Homo sapiens: one gene and its partners. The protein of the gene in region 1 purifies or fractionates together with the protein of each later gene. This does not show direct contact. Each region holds a gene or a part of one and is shown in the gene's direction. Other genes may lie near its edges.

Region 1 (3,679 bases):
TGCCTTCAGGGCCCTGCAGGCCTTCCCTTTGGGTGGGGTTGGCTACCCCGCTCTGGCACCTGCCCCGCTGACTTCCCAGCGTGGTGGCCCCGCGAGGGGACCCCGGCTCCAGGGAGGTCGCAGAGGTGCGGGGTTGATGGCCTGGCCTGGCATGTGGTCCCCATCACAAGAGTCCTGTGGTGGCCCCTCCAGTGCCATCACCGGGTGGAGGTGGGCAGCTTGGAGGCCAGTTATACCCATCCCCGAGTCTGGGGGCGTGGAGGGGGCAGTGACCTGGGGCACAGGCTGGGGTGAGGGGTGTGACCAGAGTCAGGGAAAAACTGGAGACCTGAGGAGCCCCCCACTTCACTGCTGGCCCCACCGTGGACAGTGGGAGTTTGAGGGAAGACAGAGCCTGAGGAACTTAGAGATGTTTCCAACGCAACCCAGTGCAGAATCATAGCGTTTTACTATTTCCCCCCAAATGTGACAGTTGTCCTCACCTTGTAACCTTCACAGAAGCGACTCCTTGGACCTGATTCTGTCTGTGTACACCACAGTTTAACAGCAGGAGCTAGATCACCAGCCTCTGCAGCTTAGGCAAGGGTGCAGGAAGGGGTTGCACAGCCGTCCTCCTGGCGGGCCGGGGAGTCGACACCACACGGGACCTTTAGTGCAGCTGTGTGTCCCCTGAGCTCCCGCATCCTCTGGGCCACCCAGGGTGAGCCGTCCACACCTCCTGGAATCTGAGTGGTCTCAGGAGCAAGCTTGTGTTTGGCATTGGCAGGATCTGTCTCACTAGCGTAACTTTGATCCCAGTGTATCCCATAGAGTCCCTTTAGATCACAGGGCTGGGGGTGTATATGTTCCCTGAGTTAGCCTGAAAAGCCAAGCTTTGTGTCCCCAGGCCCTCAGGGTGGACTGCCGGCTGTGTGGGTGCTGTTGGGGGCGAGAGCCAGTGCGAGCCTGAGTCAGCGCCCCGAGGGCCATGTGGAGACTGCCCTAGCTCAGCCTCCAGGTCACACGCACCCCTGTCTTGCAGCACCACACACTGGAAGCAGACGCTGTTCATGATGGACGACCCAGTCCCTGTCCATACAGGAGACGTGGTCACGGGTTCAGTTGTGTTGCAGAGAAACCCAGTGTGGAGAAGGCACATGTCTGTGGCTCTGAGCTGGGCTGTCACTTCCAGACAAGACCCCACATCTCAAAAAGTAAGATACGTAGTTGTAAGATTCTGTCCTGTGGGTGCCGGTCCTCAGGGAGACAGGCCTGGGTGGTGGTAGTGATGGCAGATGCTGGCCCACACTGGGGTCCACGCCTTTTGTGCAGGAGTGATTTAATCCTTACACAGAAAGCGCCTGTTGTCATTGGCTTCATTTCCCATCTGACAGCACGGGAAGTGGAGGGCTCTGGAAGGGAAGTCAGGGAAGTCATTCCCTCAGGTGACACGGTAAGTGAGGGAGAGCAGAGACCCACATCAGCCTGAGGCCCCTTGTGCCATGTCCAGAGGGTCCCCCAGATGGACAGAAGCCTGAGCTGTGCCTTGGCGCTCCCTTTACACAGGCCTCTGTGGCTTCCCAGGCAGCAGTTAGTCTAGGCGTGTCGTCTGTGATGCGTGTTCTGACTGGCAGCCTTCGGATCCGTGTGTGAATTCATGTGTAGCTCGCCCAGCTCACTTGGGCTTCCTGTCTCAGAGGCTGCTGAAAATGGAATGTTCTTCTTTGGGCTCAGGATTAATGTGGCAAAGAAAATAAAAATAAATGGTTTTCCTTCATTTTTTATATTTGTTTTGTGCTTTGCTTTGTGATAAGTTTTTGTTAAAAGTTTGTCATTTAAAAAAATTCTGCACCTGAATACTGTTCTCTTGTCCAATATTAAACCATTAGGAAATGTAGTATGTTAATCAAATGATTTATCATCTGATTGACCTGTTGTCATTTATCTTTTTCAGGTTGGAGAAAAAGTCTTCCCCATCTGGAGATGACAGTTGATGCTTTATTTGGAAAGCAGTGTGCATATCTTGAGGGGTGATGAACACAAGCAAACCAAGTTGCACCTGGCTTCTGCACACTCCTGCGAAAGTCGGTGAACATTCACTCCACATTGACCCCTCCCTAGCCTGGCAGGTGACGTCAGGGTCCTTCACAGACAAACACGCTTGGGCTCGGCAGGAGCTGCCGTGGCCACCCCCGCTGCCCAGTGTCTGCCCTCTAGAAGTAGGCTGTGTTTCCAGGTGTTCACCCGTGGTGCCCACAGTGCCGACCCGTGGCTGGGTCGGAGCTCCATGTTCCTAAGCTAGGTCTAGGTCTACACTCCTAGGACGCACGCATATCAGCCCGTGTACCCTGTGACAGTGACTGTCCCCACCTCCTATGTTAGTGGTGCCCTTACTGCCGTCGCTCATCCACTCGTGTGGGACGTAGGATTGCACAGGGCTGTGCCAGTGGCGTGTAGGGAACACTGCCCTGGCTCAGCGTGCGAGCTAAGGTGGTGATGTATGCGATGGGACTCTGCATGGGATAGTACAGTTGTGTAGACGTCTTCCAAATAAATTATGTGTTGGTCCATCGCACATGCTCAATAAATATTTTTAAATGAGTGAATGTCATTGTGTATCCTGTTTTATGCATATATGTTATTTTTTGTAATTACAGGATCATACTATATGCATTGCTTTATAAGTTTTTCTCAATATTGTGAAAAAACTTCCACATCAGTAGATACATGTCCATAATTTTTTTTTGTATTGTTTTGATTTTTATTAAATTTTATTGAAATATAGGCTGGGTGCAGTGGCTTACCTCTGTAATCCCAACACTTTGAGAGGCTGAGGTGGGATGATTCCTTGAGCTCAGGAGTTCAAGACCACCCTGGGCAACACAGCGAGATACTATCTCTACAAAAAAAATAGAAAAATTAGCTGGGCATGGTGGCGTGTGCCTGTAGTCCCAGCTACTCGGGAGGCTGAGGCGGGGGGATCACTTGAGCCCAGGAGGTTGAGGCTGCAGTGATCTAGGATTGCACTGCTGCACTCCAGCGTGGGTGACAGAGCAAGACCCTGTCTCAAAAACCCCAAAAAACAAAACTGAAATATCAAATATATATTGAAAACAGTGCTAGTCATGGGTACATAGATGATGGCATTTTATAAAGTGGACGCACATGTAACCAGCATCCAGGCCAGGACACACTACAGATTCCCCGATTCCCCTTCCACTCAGTGCCCACCCTCTCAAGGGTGATGTCCTGACTTGTAACTGTCGATTACTCTTGCCTGAATGGAGTTGTACACGTGTTCTTTTGTGTCTGCCTTCTTTAATTAAACATTGTTTGTGAGACTCATCTATGAATTTTAGACAGTGTGGTTGTGGTTGACTTTTTCATTGTGGCATAGTATTCAACTGCATGAATAGACCACAGTTTATGATCTTGTTTCACATGGTGTCCTTTTGGGTTGTTGCCATGGTTTAGCTATGATGATTACTGAGACTGTGGACATTTCTGTGTATGTGTTTTGGTGCATGTATGTACACATTTCTGTTGGGTGTACACTGTATACCAGGTTTTCAAGTCAAGGAATCTAATATCCCTGCCAGCTGTGCATGAGAGTTGGCATCCTCGTCAACACCCAGTATTGTGTTTTGCATTTTACCTGCTCTGGTGGGCGTGTGGATTTGGTATACATTTCATTGATGAC
Region 2 (4,203 bases), on another chromosome or scaffold:
AGGTCAGGAACATCAAAGTTGGGTGAGGGCTTGTGGTGGCCAGGTGGCTCTGGGGAGCAGGTGGGGGGTTTCAGGCCAAGAGACATTCATTCTCAGGATGGTTAAGGTGTTTGGGAAAGCAAGGTTTCCTCATGATATCAGTAAAGGATACAAGAATATGTCAAGATATGAAATGACCCCTGCATTTAGAGGGTTGAGTGAATATGTTTGCCCATTTTGTATGTGCGTGTGCATGGGTGTGGGAAGATCTCCCGATAGCCTGACCTCCTGGTGGCTGAGAAAGCTGGAGAAAATAATAAATTAGTAATAATAATAGTAATAATAATAATGATAATAGCAGCAGCTCACATGTATATAGTGTTTACTTTGTCAGGAACTATTCTAAGCATGTCATAAAATATTATCTCATTAAATCCTCATAGCAACCTTATGAGGTGGGTGCCATTATTATTCCCATTTGACAGATGAGCACACCGAGGCACAGAAAGGGGAAGTCACTTGATTAAAGTCACACAGTGGGGAGGTGAGGTCTGAACCCAGGCAGTAGGGCGGATTCTGTCCTGCAGTGCTGCACCACTCTCCATAAATGTTAGCTATTTCCATTGCTATTATTATTCCCTCCATTTGAGTCCTACCCCAGCTGTCGGAGGCGAGGCTCTGGACTTCTGTTTCATAGACTGGGATTCTGAGCCCTGAAGACCCCACAGCCAAGCAGGGGCAGACTCAGGCTCCTAATTCTGGAGTCCCCCTTTCTAGGCCAGGGTTTCCAGTACATTGTAGAGTAGTGATCTAGAGGGAGTGAAGGACAGATTTGGGGTGAACTCAGAGATGGTAGGACACCCCGATCCGGCCTCTTTTTCCGCCTTCAGCCCGGTCATTGTCTCTCTTACTCTCTGTCTCTTTCCTCCTCTGTCTTTTTCTCTCTAATACTGTCTCTATTTTTCTCTCCATCTCTGTGTCTTTTTTCTGTGTCTCTCTCTTTTCTGTGTCTCATTCTTCACTCTCAGTTTTCTGTCTGTTCACCTTCCTTTCAGACTCATCTTTTTGTCTCTCTGTTTCTCTCCCAATCTGTCTCTCTCTCTTTGCCAGTCCACTTCTCCCTCCCCCTGGTCTCTCCTTGTCTCTCTTCACCTCTGTCTCTGACTTTCCTGGTCTCTGTCCCAGGCCCCCTCCCCACTGGCAGGAAGATCAAAGCCACCTAAGGCCGTAGCCCCAAACACAGATTCCTGGGAGGTAGGCCAGCAGGGGCTAGGGTACAGGGCAGGGTGGGGTGAAAACAGTTTTAGGGACGCCCCCTTCCCATCCTTTCCTCTTCACCCCCCGCCCACCCTGTGTTGTGATGGGAACTGACATGTCGTGGGCTGCAGCCGCCGCAGGGGGAATCCCTGCCGGAAGGTTTTGCCTGGAGCAGAGACATAGCGTGAGTGTGTGAGTGTGTGAGTGTGTGTGTGTGTGTTGTGTGTACCCAAAGATGTGAGCATGAAAGTCTGCCTTGCTTGGGAGCTCAACTGAGCCCAGGATGAAACCAGACCTCAGAGAAGGCCTTCCTGAGGCTGAACTGGAAGACTCTGATGTGTTTTCCTCAGTCCCTCCCACTTTGACACTCTCCCTGCCAATGCCAGAGGCGGGAGGGGGGAAACCCTTAACATTTATTGAGTACTTACTGTATGCCAGGCATGGTCGGTGGTACATGAATGAAGATGGTACAATTATCATCCCAATTTACAGATTAAGAAATTACAGCCTAGCTAGGGGAAATCATTGGCTTGGGGGTCACAGAGCTAGCAAAAGGGGAATCAGGATTTGAACCTGAGTCTGTTTGATTTCAAAGTACTTACTCTCAATAATAGGGCACTGTTCTATGCCTGGTACATATTAAGCACTTGATGATCATGATGATGATTGCTAACATGTAATAAGCACATTTTATATGCCTGGCACTATTCTAAGTATGCTATGTTCATCAATACATTTAATCCTCACAGAAGTAAGGCCTGTTTCTATCTCCCTTTTACAGATGAAGAAACCGAGAATCAGAGAGGTTCAGATACTTGCTGGAGGTCACACAGCTAGTAAGTATCAGAGCTGGGATTTGGAGCTAGGGAGTATGGCTTGGATAGCCAGGGCCTTAAACCATAGTTAACAGTGATTTTTTAGACAATTTAGTGGGTACTGGAGGGCCCAGGTTGGGCCAGGTGTCACCCCTCTGGTTGGGAGATCATGAGAGGTTTGGGAGCTACTACAGGAGGGGCAGAGGTGAGGGTGGGACACGCAAGTAGGGACAGGGGTATTCTATCAACCAGTATAGAGATATTTTTATTTTTATTTATGTTTTAAGATGGAGTCTTGCTCTGTCGCCCAGACTGGATTGCAATGGTGTGATCTCGGCTCACTGCAACCTCCACCTCCCTGGTTCAAGCGATTCTCGTGCTTCAGCCTCCCAAGTAGCTGGGATTACAGGCGCCCACCACCATGCCCAGCTAATTTTTGTATTTTTAGTAGAGACGGGGTTTCACCATGTTGGCCAGGCTGGTCTTGAACTCCTGACCTCAGGTGATCCGCCTGCCTCGGCCTCCCAAAGTGCTGGGATTACAGGCGTGAGCCACTGTGCCCAGCATGGAAGTGTTGTAATCTGTTGTTAATAGCTGATAGTGGCTTCCTCTCACCATCCTATGGAACCCAGCTGTAGGCGGTAGGGGAGGGATCCAGGCCTGACTCGTAGCAGGACATCCCATGGCGGCCAAGTCCCACGCCTGGGTAACCGGCTCCTTCCCCGGCAGGTCTCACCTCCCACCCCTCCTGCCTTCCCACTGCACCATGGCTCCAGGACCCTTCTCCTCGGCCCTCCTCTCGCCGCCGCCCGCTGCCCTGCCCTTTCTGCTGCTGCTCTGGGCGGGGGCATCTCGTGGCCAGCCCTGCCCCGGCCGCTGCATCTGCCAGAACGTGGCGCCCACACTGACAATGCTGTGCGCCAAGACCGGCTTGCTCTTTGTGCCGCCCGCCATCGACCGGCGCGTGGTGGAGCTGCGGCTCACCGACAACTTCATCGCCGCCGTGCGCCGCCGAGACTTCGCCAACATGACCAGCCTGGTGCACCTCACTCTCTCCCGGAACACCATCGGCCAGGTGGCAGCTGGCGCCTTCGCCGACCTGCGTGCCCTCCGGGCCCTGCACCTGGACAGCAACCGCCTGGCGGAGGTGCGCGGCGACCAGCTCCGCGGCCTGGGCAACCTCCGCCACCTGATCCTTGGAAACAACCAGATCCGCCGGGTGGAGTCGGCGGCCTTTGACGCCTTCCTGTCCACCGTGGAGGACCTGGATCTGTCCTACAACAACCTGGAGGCCCTGCCGTGGGAGGCGGTGGGCCAGATGGTGAACCTAAACACCCTCACGCTGGACCACAACCTCATCGACCACATCGCGGAGGGGACCTTCGTGCAGCTTCACAAGCTGGTCCGTCTGGACATGACCTCCAACCGCCTGCATAAACTCCCGCCCGACGGGCTCTTCCTGAGGTCGCAGGGCACCGGGCCCAAGCCGCCCACCCCGCTGACCGTCAGCTTCGGCGGCAACCCCCTGCACTGCAACTGCGAGCTGCTCTGGCTGCGGCGGCTGACCCGCGAGGACGACTTAGAGACCTGCGCCACGCCCGAACACCTCACCGACCGCTACTTCTGGTCCATCCCCGAGGAGGAGTTCCTGTGTGAGCCCCCGCTGATCACACGGCAGGCGGGGGGCCGGGCCCTGGTGGTGGAAGGCCAGGCGGTGAGCCTGCGCTGCCGAGCGGTGGGTGACCCCGAGCCGGTGGTGCACTGGGTGGCACCTGATGGGCGGCTGCTGGGGAACTCCAGCCGGACCCGGGTCCGGGGGGACGGGACGCTGGATGTGACCATCACCACCTTGAGGGACAGTGGCACCTTCACTTGTATCGCCTCCAATGCTGCTGGGGAAGCGACGGCGCCCGTGGAGGTGTGCGTGGTACCTCTGCCTCTGATGGCACCCCCGCCGGCTGCCCCGCCGCCTCTCACCGAGCCCGGCTCCTCTGACATCGCCACGCCGGGCAGACCAGGTGCCAACGATTCTGCGGCTGAGCGTCGGCTCGTGGCAGCCGAGCTCACCTCGAACTCCGTGCTCATCCGCTGGCCAGCCCAGAGGCCTGTGCCCGGAATACGCATGTACCAGGTTCAGTACAACAGTTCCGTT
Region 3 (4,203 bases), on another chromosome or scaffold:
TTAATGACTTTCCTGAGCACTTTTTAAATTTTGCCTTTCTGCTGTGTTGTTGCTAGTTTCGGGTAAATGAGTTTGGAGCCCTGGAAGTTATTACAGATGAGAATGAGATGGAAAATGTTAAAAAAGCAACTGCTACCACCACTTGGATGGTACCAACTGCTCAAGAAGGTAAGGATGGGTCATCTGCATTTTATTTCTTGCTTTTGAAAGATTTGAAATAAGAATATCTAAAGTTTTATAATAGGCTGGAACTTTGAAGGCCCCGGGTAATTTTTGTGCCTCATGTTGTTAGGTAAATTTCTATAATGAAACTGATAGGAGCCAGCATTTATGTTTTAAAATAACTATAAACTGTCTTCTTTGTCCTAATGCCAGATCTGTAGTAGCACAAGGTTAGTTGGAAATTAAGTAAATCCATGTTGTAGCCTACACAGGTGATTTAGCCAAAAGCCTGCCACTTTTTTTCTCATCTACTCCGATGGTTGTAACTAACACCTATATGCTGATGACTCCTAAATCTACATCTCCAGCCCCGACCTCTCCCCCGAGCTCCAGGCCCGTATTTCCACCTGCCTACTGGACATCTCCACCTGGATGTCCCACAGGTACCTCAAACTCCACATGTCTGAAATGCAATTCATTTTCTATTTCTTTCTCCCCTCCCCACAAACCTGCTCTTTCTTCCCTAACCCATATTTCAGTTGACAATAGCACCATCCACCCAGTGGACAAGCAAGAAACACAGGAGTCATCCTGAATTTGTTCTTCCCATCCCCATATCCTGTTACTTATACCTCTTGATTTTTATTTCCTAATATGTCTCAGATCTGGCCTTTTCTATCTATCATCTTTGCCATGGCCTTAATGTAGGCTCTTCTCAACTCTCATCTGAACTATTGCAGATGTCACTCTACTTCTAATTTTACCCCCTTCCAATTGGTCCTGCACCTTGAAGCCAGAGGAACTTAACGTAGATTGCTTATCTGACACTTCACTGATTTCTCATTGCCTTTTTAGCAGAACATACAAAGATCTGGGTGCCTGCACCTACCTGCTCGCCTTGTCTCCTCAGTCTCTGTTTCCTTCTTTGTATGTTGTGTTCTGGCAGTGCCAGCAGCACAGAATTACGTGTAATTTTCCCAACACATCATGTGGTTTCATGCTTTCTTGCCTTTACTCATACTGCTTTTTCTGGCTCAAATGCCATTTCTCTCTTTGTCCAGTTGGTAAATTCCTCTTTGGCCTTCAAAACCCTGTTGAGGCTTTCTATCAGAAAATCCTTCTCTGACCTTACCCCAGGCTGAATGAATCACTTCTTCTGTACTACTTCTGGACCTTGTTTATGCCTCTAGTATTGCATGTATCACATTTTATTATAAATACTGGTTTTCTTGCCTCTCTTTTCTTCTAGACTGTGAGCTCTCTTGGGCAAGGTCTCTACTGTCATTATTAATGTCTAGAATAAATTGGTGCCTAATAACTGCTGGCTGAATGAATGATTAGCCTAACAATTCAGGCAAAAGGAAATGCGAGTTTCTACACAATTTGGATAGCTATGAGTCAGGAAATGTACTACATTGAAAGCGTAATAGAAGAGATGTTGATTTAGCCAATTAAGTAAAACAAAATCATTCATCAAAAGATTATAAATGTGAAATAAAAGAAGATCCTCTGAAATTTTCTGAAAGATACAAATATAGAAGAAGTTTCTATAGATCGATATATGCGTCTTCTGAATTTAGTGACTAGTGAAATTTTCTTCATTTTACTTTGAACTCTGTAGAAAAAGCCTTGGGCAAGCTTTTATCCTTTCTGCAGAATATTTTTTCATTATTTGAATGACTTGAGTGATTTTTACAGAGCCCATACCCCCCGAAAACACTATCATTTGATCATTCATTCATTCAGCAAACACTATTCTTTATTGTGTTGCTAACAAAATTATTAGAAGAAAAAGTTTGATTGTATTTTAGAATGTCTTCTGTCATGGTTGTAATTTGCATTTCTTCTTTTCATCTTCTAGTCTTTTCAGAGAAGACTGGGATGCCTTTCAGGTTGAAGGATCCAGTGAAAGTAGAAGGGCTTCAGTTCTGTGAGAACTGTTGTCAGTATGGCAACGTAGATGAGTGTCTTTCTGGAGGAAACTATTGCAGCCAGAATTGTGCTCGGCACATCAAAGATAAGTAGGTTTTTGCCCCATTCCATCTATAAATTGAGTTTTAGATTCCAAAGTCATGGTGCCTGAGAATATAGAAGTTTTATGCTCTCGGACATTGATCACCTATTGATACCTTTTTCCCAGAGACTTTTCCTTTAGGGCCACATGGGCCCTAACCCCTATATGGGACCTGGTGACGTCTGTCATGCCTGGTCTGAGTTGTATTACTAATATTCTGCCTGCAAAACAGCCTCTGCCTCTGCCTTCAGTCTTCCATTTCCATTCATTTGATTGTCTTCAGCTAAGAGTATTTAGTTTTTTCTGGGCTATATACACATTTCGATGACACTGACATTTATAGAAACATAGTTTTGTTTATATTTTGGGAATTCTTAGGTAACTCGGTTAAAACTCCACCTACGGCATAAAGCTTCCACTGATTCGTAATCAGCTGAATGGAAATGGCCATAGGGAAGAGTGTAGTGAGTTGGGTCACTGATGATCTCAAGGTGTGGACTGAGGATTATGAGACAGAGGCATCAGCTGTAACTGGTAGTGGTGTGTGACCTTCCCATTTGGGGACAGTCTGACAAAGTTCAGCTTATCACCAAGAAGGTGTTTTTCTTGCATATCATTGTATACTACAAAGAAATGACTGGACATTTATATTTTAGTGGCATTTCCCATGTATTTTAATCAGCACAGGCTTGGGAAATGTTTTCTTTTTCTTTTTTTTTTTTTGAGATGAAGTCTTGTTCTGTCGCCAGGCTGGAGTGCAGTGGCGTGATCTTGGCTCACTGCAACCTCCACATTCCCAGGTTCAAGCAATTCACCTGCCTCAGCCTCCCGAGTAGCTGGGACTACAGGCGCACGCCACCACACCCAGCTAGTTTTTTCTATTTTAGTAGAGACGGGGTTTCACCATGTTAGCCAGGATGGTCTCAATATCCTGACCTCATGATCCGCCTGCCTCAGCCTCCCGAAATGCTGGGATTAAAGGTGTGAGCCACTGCGCCCAACTGGAACTGTCTTGTTTTTCTTGGATAACTGATGTTTCACAATGTTACACTTAGCCTTTTTTCAATTGGATTTGTCATTCTTAATAACTGCTAGATCCTTCTTTGACCCTGAAAACAAATATCTCTAAATAATCAATTCTTTTATTAGTATAGATGGTAGATGTGACAGACAAATAACTTGTTAGAACCTATTTCATACATATTGCTGGCCCCCTTTTGAAATTAATATATAAGGTAATTTTCATTTTCTGCCCTGACAGACAGATGTCATATGTAATAGTTGTTTTCAGTGTTCCTGATATATGATATTCTCATGCCTACAGATTTCTCCTGGTAGTTAAAGATTTTTCCTTTGCAGGGTGATTTTTTTTTAATGATTGTTGCATTGATAATCAACAAGTAGATGTTTGATAGGTATTGTCTCTTGTCACTATTTTGGGTTTATAAACACAACAGAGATCAGAAGGAAGAAAGGGACGTAGAAGAAGACAATGAGGAAGAAGATCCTAAGTGTAGTCGGAAGAAAAAACCAAAATTATCTCTGAAAGCTGACACCAAGGAGGATGGAGAAGAGAGAGATGATGAAATGGTGAGTGCCTCTGCCTGACACCAGGAGCACAGGGATGCATCTTTAGTGGGTAGCATCACAGTCACAAGCACTGCTCTGGAGCCCACTGAGTTCAAATGTGGGTTCCAGGACTATCTGTGTTAGTGTCAGTAAGTTACATGGCCTCTGTGTGCCTTGCTGTCCTGATCTCAAAATGGGAATCATAAACAATAGTATCCTTCTCTCAGGGTGAAAAAGTGGGATGTCCTGAAATTTAGTGCTAGGGTGAAAGGGAACATTTAAAAACCTTCAGTCTTGTAGATGAATCTTAAATTCCTCTTGACAACACAATGCCAATCTCATTTCTTTAAATTGCAGACAGATCTCATAAAACTATCTGAGTGGGCTGGGCGTGGTGGCTCATGCCTGTAATCCCAGCACTTTGGGAGGCCGAGGCCGGCAGATCACGAGGTCGGGAG
Region 4 (4,203 bases), on another chromosome or scaffold:
CACTAACCACTATAATTATTTTTGGCTTTTTCAGCCACTGGAACTTTTTTTGGGGGGATTTAAATACAGGAAAACTGTTTAAGCAAAAAATGCACTGCTTTCATGTAAAATGATATAATCTTCTTTAACAAATATTTTCTTCATTGATAACTGACAGATATCTCATAGCATTAACATAAAATACCAGAAACAAACTTTATCTCCCTATTCTTACATTTAGTGCAAATTGGAATGCGTATGTGAATGTTAGAAGATGGACTTAATCTCTGACAACTTTATTAATTTCTCTAGCTACAGCAATGCTATTTAAAAGCCAGTTAGGTATGAATAGTACAGTAATAGTTTGGGTTCTCCCTTGATAAATGAATAAAAGGCTCAATTCTGATAAGTGATCAAATTTCTTGAAATTCTTTCAAATCAGCTGAAAATTTGGTTGGGGTGAATTGATGGTTTTTGAGAAGTAGGCCAGGTATCCTCACAAAGAAGTTTTAGAATAGGGTTTCTTTTAAGTTTTTAAATATCATCCTTTGTCTTTCCATATGGTTTTCATAACCAAATACATGACTATAGCATGGTTATTTTTCTAGTACTGCCATTTGTGATATAGCCACATCTTGGCGTGCAAGCTAGACATCTCAGGTAAATTTGTTTTTTTTTTTTTTTTTAGCCCTAGAGGTAACATTATAACTAAAATGCATTCCTGCAATTCTGTTTGCAGTGCTTCACTAAACATTGAAATAAAGTTGTAAATTTTTTCTTCAGTAATCCATTTTATAGTTAATCATACCAAATTTAAGTTGATGACCTAAAGTCCAGGTAGTGTTGAAGATAGTATGTATCTAGAATACTGGTAATGAGAAATTGTTGTAAATTGAAGAAAACAAGATGCTGCCATATATTAAGATAGAATATAATTAACTCCATGAGAATGGTTACTCAGGAACTAGTTAAAGAGCAAACCCATTTCTCCCGCTTCACTCTGTTTCAGATATTTTTATTGGAAAATGTTAGGGTAGAGGCCTGAGAAAGTTAGCAAATGCTATTGACTGATACTGGCTCTGTGTCTTCCAGTGATTTTTAGTTTGGTTTTTACAGTCAAGCCTACTGCTTGCAATTAAGATATCAATCTGAAATGCATCTGTAATTCCTGGCCACAGGTCCTTATTGCCATTATTTTTAAGTATCTTCATTGGAGATGAACACTGACTTTTGCATATGGTCTCTTACCTCAGGGAAGATCACTTGCTAGCAACTCATACTACTAATGACAGGTTTTTGAGAATTGTACTGACATCACATGTTAGCTACTAAATGCAAAATGTATAAAAGTATTGTTTTATGTAGTTACCTACCAATACTATCTGCTACTGAATAACTCTCTAAATATGTAGACCTCACTAATAACTAACCTTTAGGTAAAAAATTTACTTCTGTCATTAATTACACTTCAACTGGTCAATATAGTGGCAGCATAAAGTGTTTATTTCAGAATATCAATACAGTTTTGTCTTCATTTTTCAACAGTAATTTCAATTGGTTCATACTTAAAATACTACACAGATTTTGAGTTTTATGGTTCTCAAAGCAAGGTTTCCATCTTAAGATTTTTATAAACACAAAGCCTTTGCAAAATTGGATTAAATTCCACCTATCTTAATGTGAATTAAAAACCACCATTTATAATAATAATAGCGCCATATTCTAAGTTGAGTAAATGCATCCTACCATTCAAGGTTATCATATAATTTAACAAAATTGTACAACCTTAAGGCTCTTCACAGTATAAATTAATTTTTCAAACCAGAGCTGTTCACATGAAAATATTCCTTAGTAGAATGTATATTTAAGAAATAAAACAACAAAGGGGAACTATATCACCCATGTAAGTTATAGAGTTAATTACAAGTTCTACCATTCTTGATAATTCTTTGAGATGCTAAGTGTTTCAGTTCATATTTAATGATACTTAAATCGTGGGAATTTTAATGTTTGTTCCAAAATAGCAGAAATTGTAAAAATTATGAATTATTGGAGAAAATGCCATTACTTGTATATCTGACATTTAATTTTTTAATTATGGAGACTACATGCTTTTGTAGTATAATATTAATGATTATTCTCTTGTAAAAGAAAAGGAAAAATTAGTAAAGAAAAAAGTTTTAGTTGATGTTACCTGCTTGTGAGTATCAATTACTTAGTTTTTAAATTTTTAAGGTATTGCCTACTTTTCTTTAGAATGCAGAAATCTCGTCCTGAGCCCTTATTATGCCTGTGGTAGAGCAATGCAAGACTGAAAAGGTTGCCAGTATTTTCAGGCTTATTTGACTAAGAATTAGTGCCAAGAACTGGAAAGTCTACTTTTTGGAGGGAAATGATACTTAGAATTTGTAAACATAAGCAGTAATAGTGTAAATATTTAGAAAAATAGCAAGTGCTTTAACTGCTCAATAAAATAGTATAGATGTTATTTCACCCTTAAGGCACTGGCTGTTGCCCATTATTTTCCGATTTCGTGATTACTGTATATATTACATTTGAGTAATGAATAATTGGTAATAGTGTATTATAGTGTTCTACAGCACACCTTACTGTACAGTATTTGAAGTTTTCTTTTATATCAATAATAAAACTATAAGTTAATACTGATTTTCCCCTGAAATTCTCCACATTAGCTTTTAAAGGTAATTTTATGTTCTTTAGTTTCCTGGAATTATAATGCATGAACATATAGTTCAGTTTTATAAAGAAATTCTTAAATAATAAAGTTTTCTTGTTGAACTTAAGCGGGTTATCGTACAGGAATAGTGATTTTTCCCCTTAATGTAGATTTCATTGCTAGATGAAATGGACCCAGTGAAAAAAGAGTGCGCAATTTAAAAAAAAACCAAAACGGTCTCACTCTGCTGCCCATGCTGGATTGCCGTGGCATGATCAGGGCTCACTGCAGCCTCAACCTCCTGGGCTCAAGTGATCCTCCCACCTCAGCCTCCTGAATAGCTGGGACTACAGGCATGTGCCACCACACCTGGCTAATTTTTGTATTTTTTGTAGAGATAGGGTTTTGCCATGTTGCCCAGGCCGGTCTTGAACCCCTGAGCTCAAGTGATCTGCCCTCCTCTGCCTCTTTAAGTGCTGGGATTACAGGCGTGAGCCACCGCACCCTGCCAGCAAAATTTCTTTAGACATATTACATAATTGGGCCATAATGCTTACTGAATATTTAAAAATGAAGGCAAATTCTAACAGAGAACTTGATTTTGTGGTGGTTTAAAAAAATACTGGTTAGTGATAAGGAAATGAAAGGAAATACAGATAATAGTACTAAATAACGTTTGTGTAGCTTAGCAGTCAACACGTTTACTTCCAAGTTTTATTGTATATGCTTAATATACATTTTATTAGATCATTTAACTCAATAATTTAGAGTATAGCCTTAGACACCAGACTGCCTAGGTCTGACTCCTGGTACGCTGCTTTCTGTGACCTCTCTGTGCATTCCTCTCTGCGAGGATGATGATCACATCTGCTCCCAGGGTGGCTGTCTTAAATGAGTTAACACGTATCTGATGATTAGAAGAGTGCCTGACACATAGTAAACACTCAAATATTTGCTATGTTATATGTTAATGTAATGTGGTAGAGTTCAGTTGCCATTAAGTGGGATAAATCCTCACAGGGCACACATTATTTAAATAATTTGTTACATTAAAACTTATTTTACTTGTACATAATTGACTAAAAAATGGGGGGTTGTACATTCAAACATTTATGACCATGTGCAACACTGAGAATCTCAAACCGACAGTGTGCTCTGTGACCCAAGGCAAGTCTTGGAGCCTTTCAAGGCCTCAATTTCTTCTGTAACCTTGTGGTTTCACAATTGTCAACCTTTTGTTCTGCCGACCATTGTCGTCATAGTCTTACTTGCAGAGGGCATAGTGCTGATGGGACAAGTGACATGGGTATGAGCCCCATGTAAACTAAAACATAATTACCTTTCCTTTAGGTGTTGGCTACAGTTATCCCAAACTTGGACTTGAGGTCTTGTATATGCATGCCATTGGTCACATACCATCAGAATAGAATTCTCAAAAACTCTTTAGTAAATAAGATAAACATCCTACTTATAACAGCTCATTATGGATTTTATTTTTATTGTCTGGCTCTTTCAGACCCCAGCAACTGCAATTCTGACTTAATAAT
Region 5 (4,203 bases), on another chromosome or scaffold:
CTTGCAAATGAAAATTATTACATACTGTTGCCTGAAGGGAGCTCAGGACTCAGTGCGAGTTCAGTGCGTCACAGATCTCCTAAGTGAGACAGATCTGAGATTTAAACACTTGAGCAGATGATAAAGCAGCAAACTGCTTAATGGTTGATGTGGAATCTTATGATTAGGCTTTTGTCAAGACAAAGCACAGGGTTGGAAGATCCTCCTCTGGCAGTTTACTTTGCAAGGAAATGTGAAACTAAAATCTTAGATCATGGGGTGAGGCAAAGTGGTCAGCCGCACAGGGCATTTGAGCATCTGATGTGGTTCAAGTTTGGTAAACTAGTTTAGAGATGCTGTGCTATTTGTGGTGAGAATGCAGTGTGACTGGGAATGATTTATGAAGAAGGTATTATAGTTTAGAAGTATGTTTATGCTTTCATATCTTTATATATTTTAAACTTGATTTAATTGGCCTTGTGTTGGAAGACCAGTTATTTTCTATTGTTCTCAGGTTCTAATTTTGCTATTAAAGTACTTTCATTTTGAAAAAAATCACTCAATCTGGAGCTGCTTTTGTTCAATTCCTTCTCATACCCTCCCTATCCCCCCTCCCCCAACTTGTAACAGCAATTTTGAAGCAAATGTACGTGGGTGGTTTCCATGGTACAAGACAACAACTTTCACAGAGAGAGGGCACTTCAGCTTGAGCTAATTGGGCATGACATGTTCCAGTGTTCTGGTGTGTAAACACAGATACCCTAATATTGCAGGTATTTCAGCAGTTGATCAGGCATGTTAGAGAAGGAAAACATTTAGTCTCATTATTCTGAATGACAAATGCAGTGGAGGAGAAAGGATGGGCAACAATGATGCCAGGAGATTGGTTCATTTGAATCATGCTATACCCAACTCCCATAACTGTTCTGTGTTTCTGTTGACAGGACCAGGAAGAACAAGCTTACTTTGCAGTGTTTGATGGCCATGGGGGAGTAGATGCTGCTATTTATGCCTCCATTCACCTCCACGTTAACTTAGTCCGCCAGGAGATGTTCCCCCATGATCCTGCTGAGGCCCTGTGCAGGGCCTTCCGGGTCACTGATGAGCGGTTTGTGCAGAAAGCAGCCAGGGAGGTATGCCCCTTTCTCATAAGTTCCAGCTAGAAATGTACTAGCTGAGCTCAATTTGGTCTGTGTGGTTAAAGGGCTATTTAGATTTTCTCTTTCTGGGCAGACATTATCCAAACTGTATTCTTGACTCACAGTATTGGATTCTGTTGTAGTTCCAATTCCCTCCTCAGGAAGAGTTTCAGGGGGTACAATGAGGTACTGTATAGAAAATCTCAAGCTGTAATTTTCTGGATTCATTTCTGTAATAACTGCTGGATTTGGCAGGTGAGTTTCATCTTTCTTTTATTCACCATTGCCTGTCAGGTTCACACCAGGACCATCTCTCTAAGCAGACTCTTGCTGACAAGATCTGGATATGGTGAATAAAACAATGGTCTAAAAAAGAAACAGAAACTGGGATTACTTCCATACATTTGGTTCTAAATGGGTAGGCAGTGTTTTGCTGTGTATCTCTTGAGGGAAAATTCGCTTGGAGAGGGTGAATCCTTAAATGATCCTTGAGCTGATTTTTCTCTTAATAGGGAGAAAAGAAGAGCTCATGTCCTACATTGCGAAGGTTAATCAGACCTAAGTTTTTTTTACTTTGAATAAATGGCAAGGGCTCTATATTAAGGTCTAAAAGTAAAAAAATTAATCTAATTATCGTTCTGGGTATTGGTACATAATTAACTACAGTGTTCTATATTGGATTTTTAACTGGGGACGAATAAAAGAATTTTTAATTTTTAAAAATAATTACAGAAGTAGATACAGACAAAAAATAAGACTCCTGCCCTGTGACTTAAACATTAACTCTTTTTAAAATGGGCTTGGAGAGATCAGGGTAATCATTTAATCCATTTTTTGATAGCATAGTTATGCTACAAGCAATAATGGGGCTTAGAATTAATGAAACAATAACTCAGACCTATTTGGTATTAAGAAAGAGAATTATTCTTCATCTCTCCCCTCCCCTAAGTTTGGATTAATATGCAAATCCAACAGTAACCAGTAGAGTCCACACAAAGAGGTGGGTCTGGAGAATAAAGCCACTCTTGACCTCAGAGCTCCAGTCTCTTGAGGACCTGCATTCTGCTTGGCTCTGCCTCTCTTGAAGCTGTGGGCTTTTATCATCTGAGTCGAGGACAAGGGCCGGCCCCTGAGAGGTGACCCGTAATCATCAATGTGAAACAAAGAGATTCACTCTGTCTTCTTCATCCTCTATTCTATTCTTTTTTTCCTCTGTCTTCTCAAAATTATGTGTTGTTGTTGTTGTTGTTGTTTTCTGACCATGTTTACCTCATTTGTTTTGTCAGTGACCCTGGTGTCTCTCAGTTCTGCCAATAGTTCTGAATAATTTAGGTTTGTCTCAGCGCCCCTTTTCTCCTTCTTATGCTTCCATGTGCTGCTAACTGCTGGGAAGAAAACAGCTATTCCTGTTATGAAGCAGCCCTGCCTCCTGTTCTCTCCAGGGCATATGCACTGAAGTGTGTTTATCATGTGTTCTAGGGGGCTGAGTTTTTGAACATTCTGTGTGGGAAGACATTTTATTGGTGGGTGAGGATTTATAACAAACTTTCCCTATATAGGGAAAACGAGAAGTTGTTTTTCTCATTGGATACAAGAGACCTTTTACCACCCCTGACGCATTGGTTCTAATTTAGGCCAGGTCCTTAGTAACAGAAAGTCATGCTCATTTGGTGGTGACTCATGTCAAATGGGGATGTCATTTTCGTATAGTAGGACCAAGAGCTTTAAGTACAGTCGTAGCTACTGCAGTGAAATTCCAGGCTGTTAGTTCTTTATGCAATGTTCCAAAAGCAAAGACCCCTAAAAATACTGTAGGAAGGATATTTTTTTAAAGGTATAAGCATCTTAGTACTCCAGGGAACGTAAGCTGTCTCTTGGCCCCTTAGCTTAATTTCCAGAGATTAGAGCATCTGTTGTGTACCAATCAGATGTTTTATATATCATTTTATACAGCTAGGACTCTCCCACTGAACAAATACGATGTCAGTAATGAAATGGAGAGCAGAATATAGAAATTTTTACTCTGAGGATTGGTATAGAGGATTTAGTGCTTGACTGGGAGGAAAAAGAATTTCAATTCTGTCTTATATACTAATAGTTACCTGCCCTTGGGCAAGTCACATAACCTGCCATAGTTTTCTTATCTATATTTAAAGTGGAATTAATAATCATCCTCGCCCTGCATATCACAGATCAGGTGGACTTATGTGTGTATATACACATAAATACATACATGCATATACAAATGCATTGAGACAATGAATTATTATATATGTGTGAAATTCCATTATTAATAGTATAGCTCCCAGCTGAAAAGCTTAATTATAAATTGCTTCTCAATAAGAATGTAGTATCTATTTCTTTTCACTGAGTCTAGTTTTATTTAAACTGTTTTCAGAGCTTAAGATGTGGGACCACAGGAGTGGTGACTTTCATCAGAGGCAACATGCTACATGTGGCCTGGGTGGGTGATTCCCAGGTTATGCTTGTGAGAAAGGGCCAAGCTGTTGAACTAATGAAGCCACACAAACCAGACAGAGAGGTAAGTATGGTCTGTTTTAATAGAGCCCATGCTCTAGTTATTAGTTTAGATTTTCTAGTTATTGATTAGGATTCACTTACTTTTTTTTTTTTTGAGATGGAGTTTCACTCTGTTGCCCAGGCTGGAGTGCAATGGTGTGATCTTGGCTCACTGCAACCTCCGCCTCCTGGGTTCAAGCGATTCTCCTGCCTCAGCCTCCCGAGTAGCTGGGATTACAGGCATGTGCCACCACGCCCAGCTAATTTTTGTATTTTTAGTAGAGACGGGGTTTCACCATGTTGGCCAGGCTGGTCTTGAACTCCTGACTTCAGGTGATCTGCCTGCTTCGGCCTCCCAAAGTACTGGGATTATAGGCGTGAGCCACCGCGCCCGGCCAGGATTCACTTAATTATTACAATTATTGCTATCACATCAGCAACTGTGCCCACCCTCCAATGGAGAAACAAAGAGAACCTTTTCATGAGCTGATGAGTATTATATCTGTTGTTTACTGTTAAAGTAAATGAATAAATCCTGAATCCAGTTATTTGCTTCTTTTTATTG
Region 6 (3,500 bases), on another chromosome or scaffold:
GCTTGCTTTCCCCTTTTCAAGTTCACGTTGGATTATAACTAATCTTTCAGTGCAAGGACAGCACACATACACCAGAGTCAGAGCTGACAAGTTTCCTGGGCATTATCTCTAACATGTCCAATCAGTTTCCCCCTTTGAACGGCAGCTGTCAGCCTGCTGTTCTACCCGTCTCCCCACAAGCCCACACATTTCAGAGAACAGCTGCGACTGTCACCTGCCTCATTTCACAGAGTTTGGACAGGGGTCCCATTTGGGGACCTTCACCCAGGGTTGTATGCATGAGCCAAGCTTGGTACCAGCTCCTAGGCATGATGCAGGGAGGACCCAGACCTCCAAATTGGGATATGAGGTTCAGAGAACAGCCTCCCTATCTCCCAGCCTGGACTTCAGACTTCTCCTCACCTGCTAAGGTCACTCTCACTGAGTCCCAGCAAGTCTCCTTGTCTCTTCTCTTGGTGGGCATGCCCTGGTCTGAATTACTCTTGGGTACAGCCCCCTCTCCCGCAGGCAGGCAGGCTGCCTCTCAATGCTTTGCAGGGCTCAGCTTGAGAAGGCATGGCGGGTCCTGACAGCCAACAAGAACCACACTTTCTTGCCTGATCTTCAGCGCCCCCACAGTCTGGCTCCCATGTCCCTCTTTAGCCTTGTGCTCACCTGGCAACAGCATCTGCCCAGGCCTTCCCCAACCCTCACGGACCCTCCTGGGTGGGCCCAGCGTCAGCCTGGGTAGGCTTTCCCCGTTCTGGGGCTGCCATGCTGCCATGAAGGTGTTACATTTGACAATACTGAGTTTCACTCAGCAATGGCCTCTTGTGTGCATTTTAGTTTTCTAAGTACATCATCATAAGTCTGCAAGCAAGGACCATATCCTAAATTTATCTGACTTCCCTACGGTCCCCAGTAGGCACATGACGGACACCACTCAGTGGCTGATGGGAAAGTCGAGGCCCAGCTTGGGAGACTTCTGACAATAGGGCCACAGGAGATGCCCCCCACCCCTGGTGGAGTGTTGGAGCAGACAGACAAGCTGCCTTCAAGGACATGCATTCTCTGATCATTAGGCTTGTGCCGCAGATGAGGTTTCGTGGGCAGAGTTAGCAGAGTTCTACGAAGATGGGCTGCCAGTGAATGTTTGCTCTGCGTGGATTCCAGCCTCACTTCTCCATTTTTCAGCTTGCCAAGCTTCCCTCCGGTTCACACAGTTAGGTGCTGTCATGACCAGGGACTTGTCTATGAGTGGCGTGTGTCCTGGTGAAGGCAGTAGCCTGTGGGATGATATCTGACAGAAACTTACTGTGGTTTGGGCTTAGGCAGCAGGAGCCCAGGGAGGACCTGCAGGCCTGGGGCTGGGGCTGGGGCTGGCATCTTGTCACAGCAAAGCCCTGCGACTCTGGAACAGTGGAAGTGGGTCCAGTTTTGCACATGGCAGGTGGCTCAAGCCCCACACTACCCATTCTCAGGCAGCACAGTTCCCACTGAGCAGCAGGTGGTCATCACTGTCACAGCTGCTGACCCTGTCAGCAGGGTCAGGGCAGCATCAGCTGTGCCACTGCGGCTGGTTCGAGGTTCACTGGCACACCTCCACGGTGTGGTGGCACTGCCCTCCAGAGCAGCCCCCTGAGCCACCTTTACCTATGGAGCCGGCCAGGGAGCTCAGGTGTGGCCCATGGCAGGCCATGGGGCCCAGGTGCCCTACAACTCTTTCTCCTCCCTGTGCTAACCCAGAGCTCATCCATAGACAGTGTCGGGGTCACTGTGACACACCCCTACTTCTTCCTGCCTAGGTTGCACAATTGAACAGTGATTAATTTACCTCCTCTTGGGAAATACTGTAGCTCTTTTTTTGTTGTTGTTTTTGAGACACAGTCTCGCTCTGTCCCCCAGGCTGGAGTACACTGGTATAATCTTGGCCCACTACAATCTTCACCTCCTGGGTTCAAGCGATTCTCCTGCCTCAGCCTCCTGAGTAGTTGGGACTACAGGTGCATGCCACCACACCCGGTTATTTTGGATTTTTAGTAGAGATGCAGTTTCACCATGTTGCACTCCTGACCTCAGATAATCCTCCCGCCTTGGGCTCCCAAAGTGCTGGGATTACAGGTGTGAGCCACTGGTGCCTGGCCCATGCTGTAGCTCTTACAGCAAACAAATGAAAAACAAATTGGCCTAATACTTTTTATTTCTGCTTTCGCTAGATGGAGCTAGAAATTTTTTTTAAAGGAAAGAAAAAAAAAAACCATATGGGTTTACAGAGACTGAACATCCCGCCAGGCATGTGTCACTTTGGGTTAGCCTAGTGCTCTGCCACTCTCAGTCAAGTGCCCACGGCAGCACATCAGACGGGTCAAGCGAGCACATTTGCTTCCCCAGGCACAAGCGAGTGGCACCCTGGTGGGTGTCCGCTTGTCAGCCACTCCTCAGCAGATGGGGTTGGGGGGCAGGCCAGCCCCACCCCTGGCACCCAGTGTTGCGCAGGCCCTGTGGACCTGGGACCTTCTTGGCAGGCTCTGGGCTGCAGCAGCAGCTTCCACGCCACCTCTTTGTTCACCGCAGTCTGTGTGGACCCAGCTTCCAGGATTGTTGCCTGCTGCTCTCATTAAGATGCCCGCGCCCTTAGCCTTGTTCTGCAATGAACAGGAATGAGGCTGTGTCCGCTGTGGCCCTGTGCACACCCTGCCTCGAGTCCTCATGCTCGGCCTTTCAAGAGGGATGGGAGTCATCCATGCATTGGGTCCCCTGACATCCCCAGAGGGAACAAGTGGGGACGGCACCTCCCAAGCCCAGAGCCAAGGGGCCACTCTTTCTCAGAGGAGGTCACGGAAGATCCTAGAACCCAGCCCATCCCCTTCTACAGGGGCTGTCATGCCAGCCCCCAGACCTCCCGTCCTCACTGTGATTTTCTAGCCTCTTGTCCATTGAAATGGAAAACAGATCTTGTTTTGAGAGGGGCCATTCCCACCCCTTCTCAGGGTGCCTGTGCGGTACAGACCGGTCTCCAACCCACTTCAGGTTCTTGTGAACTTCAAGAAACTGTCCTCTAACCTTCTCAGGACTGTGAGGCAGATGGATGCTGCCAGGCCAGCCCTTGCCAGTCCACAAGCGAGCATGCCAGTTGGTGCCGCTCCTGCAGGGCTGCAACTCGGCCCATGCCCCATGGCGCCCCACACCCCCACAGGCCTCACCTGCTCGTGCTTGTGTCATCCAGGCTAGGGCTCAGGGTTGTCCTGGTGCCTGAAACCCCTGCCTGCTGGGCCACCCATGTCAGCCTCTCCGTGCTTGCTCCATAGGGCCTGATGCACTCCAGCGGCCCCGTGGGCCGGCACCGGCAGCTCATCCTGGTTCTGGAGGGGGAGCTCTACCTCATTCCTTTCGCCCTCCTGAAGGGAAGCTCCTCCAATGAGTACCTCTACGAGCGCTTCGGCCTCCTTGCTGTCCCTTCCATCCGCTCCCTCAGCGTGCAGTCCAAGGTAAGGCTCACACACATGGTGGGGGGCCGGGGG
Region 7 (4,203 bases), on another chromosome or scaffold:
CAACAGTTTCATCCTCTGTGCCCCACCCGTCTCCCTGCCTTCTTTCTCTCCCTCACGTTTCCCGTATTCACCCTCATCATCCTTTTGCCTTTTCCTGCTGGCTCCGCTCCACAAGAGTAAGATGTTTGCCTGCCTCTTCAACTTTGTGTCCCCAGCACCTAGACCAGTGCCTGGCACACAGGTACTGAGCAAATGTTTGTTGAATTGGAATGAATGAATGAATTCTAGTGGTAACTCCATGAGGCAGGGACTATGATGCCCATTTTGCAAATGAAGACGCTGAGGCTTGGAGAGGCTGAATGGCTTGCACTGGGTCACACAGCTGGGAGTGCCACTGATTGCTAGTCTTGCAGAGGGGACTCCGAGAGCCCCTTGGCCTTCCAGACTCACCTCACTGTCTCTCCCTGCTCTCTCTGCAGGGCCAGCAGTCCTCAGGCGAGGACATGGAGATCTCGGATGACGAGATGCCCTCGGCCCCCATCACCAGCGCTGACTGCCCCAAGCCCATGGTGGTGACCCCAGGAGCGGCAGCCGTGGCAGCCCCTTCTGTGCTAGCCCCAACCCTGCCGCTGCCCCCGCCACCTGGCTTCCCCCCGCTGCCCCCCCCACCACCACCACCCCCACCGCAGCCTGGCTTCCCCATGCCCCCACCGCTGCCCCCACCGCCGCCCCCACCCCCTCCAGCCCACCCTGCTGTGACAGTGCCCCCACCACCCTTGCCAGCGCCGCCTGGAGTCCCGCCCCCACCCATCCTGCCACCACTGCCCCCCTTTCCGCCGGGCCTGTTCCCTGTGATGCAGGTGGACATGAGCCACGTGCTGGGTGGCCAGTGGGGCGGCATGCCCATGTCCTTCCAGATGCAAACGCAGGTGCTCAGCCGGCTGATGACGGGCCAGGGCGCCTGCCCCTACCCGCCCTTCATGGCCGCTGCGGCCGCCGCTGCCTCAGCTGGGCTCCAGTTTGTCAACCTGCCGCCCTACCGGGGCCCCTTCTCCCTGAGCAACTCCGGCCCAGGCCGCGGGCAGCACTGGCCACCACTGCCCAAGTTTGACCCGTCAGTGCCTCCACCAGGCTACATGCCACGCCAGGAGGACCCACACAAAGCCACGGTGGATGGCGTCCTGCTGGTGGTCCTCAAAGAACTCAAGGCCATCATGAAGCGTGACCTGAACCGCAAGATGGTGGAAGTGGTGGCTTTCCGGGCCTTTGACGAGTGGTGGGACAAGAAGGAGCGGATGGCCAAGGTGGGTGGGTGGGTGCAGGGCTCTGCAGGGTGGCTGTGGAGGGGGGCAGGTCCCCAGCCGGGCACCTCCTCTTTCCCTGAGACTGTTAACTGGAAACGCTGCCGTGGACCCCACTATGGGAGCTCCATTTCATGTGGCCACTTTCAAAGTTCCGCAAACTGTGCTCCACTTCAGCAGCCACTAGATGCACACGGCTCTTTGAATTTAAATGAGTGGCCAGGCATGGTGGCGTACACCTTTAATCCCAGCACTTTGGGAGGCTGAGGTGGGAGGATTGCTTGAGCCTAGGAGTTCAAGATCAGCCTGAGCAGTATAGCAAGAGCCCATCTCTAAAAATAAATGTGCAAATTAACTTAAATGAATTAAAACAGAGTAAAATTAAAACTCCTCCTTTGTACATGCCACATTTCAAGTGCTCGGGAGCCACAGGTGCCTAGTGGTAGTACACAGGATAGCTGGTGCAGACTGCCCCCCCCGCCCATTGCAGACAGCTCACAGCTGCGACTCCCTTTGAACTTGACTCCCCTCACCTCCCCTCATGCCGCCTTTTACACGGAGCCCTGTCTTGGACCACTTTTTTCCTTTTTTTGTTTTTTTGAGACAGGGTCTCGCTGTATCGTCCAGGCTGGAGTGTAGTGGCGCAATCATAGCTCACTGCACCCTCAACCTCCCTGTGCTCAAGGGATCCTCTCACCTCAGCCTCCAAGTAGCTGGGACTACAGGCATGTACCACCACACCCAGCTAATTTGTGTGTTTTTCTGTAAAGACAGAGTTTCACCACGTTGCCCAGGCTGGTCTTGAACTCCTAGGCTCAAGTGATCCTCTGCCTTTTGGGCTGGGATTATATGCGTCAGCCACCGCTCCTGGCCTACTTACTATTTTCTTTTCTTTCTTTTTTTTTTTTTTTTTTTTCGGAGATGGAGTCTCACTCTGTCACCCTGGCTGGAGTGCAATGGCGTGATCTCAGCCCTCTGCAGCCTCCACCTCCTGGGTTCAAGCGATTCTCCTGCCTCAGTGTCCTAAGTAGCTGGGACTATAGGCACCCACTACCATGCCTGGCTGATTTTTGTATTTTTAGTAGAGATGGGGTTTCACCTTGTTGGCCAGGCTGGTCTCGAACTCCTGACCTCAAGTGATCCACCTGCTTCAGCCTACCAAAGTGCTGGGATTACAGATGTGAGCCACTATGCCTGGTCTCTTTTTTCCTTTTTAACATATTATTTGCCTGTTTGCAATCTTACAGGTAATCTAAAATTACTTATTTTCTCCATAAGAGAGAACTTTTTCTTGAATACTTTAAACTCCCCTTAATCCCTCCCCTCCACCCCATTCCCCCCTGCTCCCCTCCCTCGACCGTGGTTATGAGTTTGAGTGTCCCCTGGAGCCTGCTTTGGGAAATGCTTGCTTTCTGCCACAGAGGTAAGCAGCACTTGTCAGAGCCTGTTTGTCATCCGTTTAACTGGGCAGTAAAATTAGAATGAACCGTCTGAAATCACTGATACACAGCTCTTTATGGTTCAGCCAAATTATACTGACCCTACAGTAACAGCTAATAGCTATTCCATTCACAATTTGAATAAAAAGAGCCACCAGGCCTCATGTGCCCTGCACCTTGCAAAGCTCTTCATGTGGCTCGTTTTGTTAATTCTCACAGCATCCCTTTGAAGGCAGAGCATTTCAGAACCACAGGGGCAACCCCTTAGTGAGCAGTGAAATAAAGCCAGTAGGTCCTGTTTTTAATGCATGGGAAGAGAAGAGAAAATGGGATAGTGTAAATCTTACCTTGTGAAGGTGGTGTTGCACAGATGTGTCCCTATGGTGTAGTTTTTGGATTGTCTGCAAAGTGCAAAGGCCACTGTTGTAAGGAAGGCAGGTACAGTAGTCCTATTCTACAGGGGAGGACATTGAGATCTATGAGGCAGAGCGGTGCTCTAGAGCCTCGTGGGTAACGGCATAGTGTGGCCAGGTGTGTAGGGAATGAGGATGCAGTTACCTGTGGTGGCTGTTACTGCCGAGTGGAAGGCAGGTAGCCTGGGGAGGGCTCCCTGCAAGGGTTGGTGGTGCCAGAAGCGGTGACGGTCCCCTCCTGTCTCCACCCCAGGCCTCGCTGACCCCGGTGAAGTCGGGCGAGCACAAGGACGAGGACAGGCCGAAGCCCAAGGACCGCATCGCCTCGTGCCTGCTGGAGTCATGGGGCAAGGGCGAGGGCCTGGGCTACGAGGGCCTGGGCCTGGGCATTGGGCTGCGTGGGGCCATTCGCCTGCCCTCCTTCAAGGTCAAGAGGAAGGAGCCACCAGACACCACCTCATCTGGCGACCAGAAGCGGCTGCGGCCCTCGACCTCTGTGGATGAGGAAGATGAAGGTTCGTGCTCTGGGTGCTGGGGTCCCCTTCTTCCGCATCCCCCCAGCCCAGCTCTGACTCCCTCCCTTCCTGCAGAGTCCGAGCGAGAGCGAGACCGGGATATGGCAGACACCCCCTGTGAGCTCGCCAAGCGGGACCCCAAGGGCGTGGGTGTGCGGCGGCGGCCGGCGCGGCCTCTGGAGCTGGACAGTGGTGGGGAGGAGGACGAGAAGGAGTCATTGTCGGCGTCCTCGTCCTCATCCGCGTCATCATCCTCGGGGTCCTCAACCACCTCACCCTCGTCCTCGGCCTCCGACAAGGAGGAGGAACAGGAGAGCACCGAGGAGGAAGAGGAGGCGGAGGAGGAGGAGGAGGAGGAAGTCCCCAGGAGCCAGCTCTCCTCCTCCTCAACCTCATCCACATCAGATAAGGTGCCTAGCAGGCCAGGAAGCCTCAGGGGGCCGGGCCAGGCGACGAGGGCCAGACCCTTCGGCTCACCTGTCCCCACTCTTCCTTCTCCCCCAGGATGACGACGATGACGACAGTGATGACCGGGACGAGTCTGAGAACGATGACGAGGACACAGCCCTGTCAGAGGCGAGTGAGAAGGACGAAG

What was found.
Region 2: the proteins of PRMT2 (region 1) and LRFN1 purify together in Homo sapiens (affinity purification with mass spectrometry; 3 studies listed by BioGRID and IntAct, with this or other methods). This does not show direct contact.
Region 3: the proteins of PRMT2 (region 1) and L3MBTL3 purify together in Homo sapiens (affinity purification with mass spectrometry; 3 studies listed by BioGRID and IntAct, with this or other methods). This does not show direct contact.
Region 4: the proteins of PRMT2 (region 1) and VCPIP1 purify together in Homo sapiens (affinity purification with mass spectrometry; 3 studies listed by BioGRID and IntAct, with this or other methods). This does not show direct contact.
Region 5: the proteins of PRMT2 (region 1) and PPM1E purify together in Homo sapiens (affinity purification with mass spectrometry; 3 studies listed by BioGRID and IntAct, with this or other methods). This does not show direct contact.
Region 6: the proteins of PRMT2 (region 1) and TTC28 purify together in Homo sapiens (affinity purification with mass spectrometry; 3 studies listed by BioGRID and IntAct, with this or other methods). This does not show direct contact.
Region 7: the proteins of PRMT2 (region 1) and SETD1B purify together in Homo sapiens (affinity purification with mass spectrometry; 3 studies listed by BioGRID and IntAct, with this or other methods). This does not show direct contact.

Annotation. Positions count from the first base shown.
Region 1 is NC_000021.9:46,662,362-46,666,040, forward strand, and holds the end of PRMT2 (protein arginine N-methyltransferase 2), read left to right. Parts: intron 1-1,021; coding exon 1,022-1,193; intron 1,194-1,933; coding exon 1,934-1,966; coding exon of another isoform or gene 1,967-2,013; 3' UTR 2,014-2,763; downstream 2,764-3,679. UniProt on the Homo sapiens protein: Arginine methyltransferase that methylates the guanidino nitrogens of arginyl residues in proteins such as STAT3, FBL, histone H4. Acts as a coactivator (with NCOA2) of the androgen receptor (AR)-mediated transactivation.
Region 2 is NC_000019.10:39,313,951-39,318,153, reverse strand, and holds part of LRFN1 (leucine-rich repeat and fibronectin type III domain-containing protein 1 precursor), read left to right. Parts: intron 1-2,017; 5' UTR 2,018-2,072; intron 2,073-2,780; 5' UTR 2,781-2,817; coding exon 2,818-4,203. UniProt on the Homo sapiens protein: Promotes neurite outgrowth in hippocampal neurons. Involved in the regulation and maintenance of excitatory synapses. Induces the clustering of excitatory postsynaptic proteins, including DLG4, DLGAP1, GRIA1 and GRIN1.
Region 3 is NC_000006.12:130,049,226-130,053,428, forward strand, and holds part of L3MBTL3 (lethal(3)malignant brain tumor-like protein 3), read left to right. Parts: intron 1-56; coding exon 57-168; intron 169-425; coding exon of another isoform or gene 426-530; coding exon 531-605; intron 606-2,023; coding exon 2,024-2,183; intron 2,184-3,633; coding exon 3,634-3,766; intron 3,767-4,203. UniProt on the Homo sapiens protein: Is a negative regulator of Notch target genes expression, required for RBPJ-mediated transcriptional repression. It recruits KDM1A to Notch-responsive elements and promotes KDM1A-mediated H3K4me demethylation.
Region 4 is NC_000008.11:66,628,529-66,632,731, reverse strand, and holds part of VCPIP1 (deubiquitinating protein VCPIP1), read left to right. Parts: 3' UTR 1-4,203. UniProt on the Homo sapiens protein: Deubiquitinating enzyme involved in DNA repair and reassembly of the Golgi apparatus and the endoplasmic reticulum following mitosis. Necessary for VCP-mediated reassembly of Golgi stacks after mitosis.
Region 5 is NC_000017.11:58,968,616-58,972,818, forward strand, and holds part of PPM1E (protein phosphatase 1E), read left to right. Parts: exon of another isoform or gene 1-923; coding exon 924-1,112; exon of another isoform or gene 1,113-1,414; coding exon of another isoform or gene 1,415-1,484; intron 1,485-3,516; coding exon 3,517-3,660; intron 3,661-4,203. UniProt on the Homo sapiens protein: Protein phosphatase that inactivates multifunctional CaM kinases such as CAMK4 and CAMK2. Dephosphorylates and inactivates PAK. May play a role in the inhibition of actin fiber stress breakdown and in morphological changes driven by TNK2/CDC42.
Region 6 is NC_000022.11:28,001,341-28,004,840, reverse strand, and holds part of TTC28 (tetratricopeptide repeat protein 28), read left to right. Parts: intron 1-2,161; exon of another isoform or gene 2,162-3,287; coding exon 3,288-3,467; exon of another isoform or gene 3,468-3,500. UniProt on the Homo sapiens protein: During mitosis, may be involved in the condensation of spindle midzone microtubules, leading to the formation of midbody.
Region 7 is NC_000012.12:121,813,687-121,817,889, forward strand, and holds part of SETD1B (histone-lysine N-methyltransferase SETD1B), read left to right. Parts: intron 1-419; coding exon 420-1,244; intron 1,245-3,346; coding exon 3,347-3,608; intron 3,609-3,683; coding exon 3,684-4,018; intron 4,019-4,112; coding exon 4,113-4,203. UniProt on the Homo sapiens protein: Histone methyltransferase that catalyzes methyl group transfer from S-adenosyl-L-methionine to the epsilon-amino group of 'Lys-4' of histone H3 (H3K4) via a non-processive mechanism.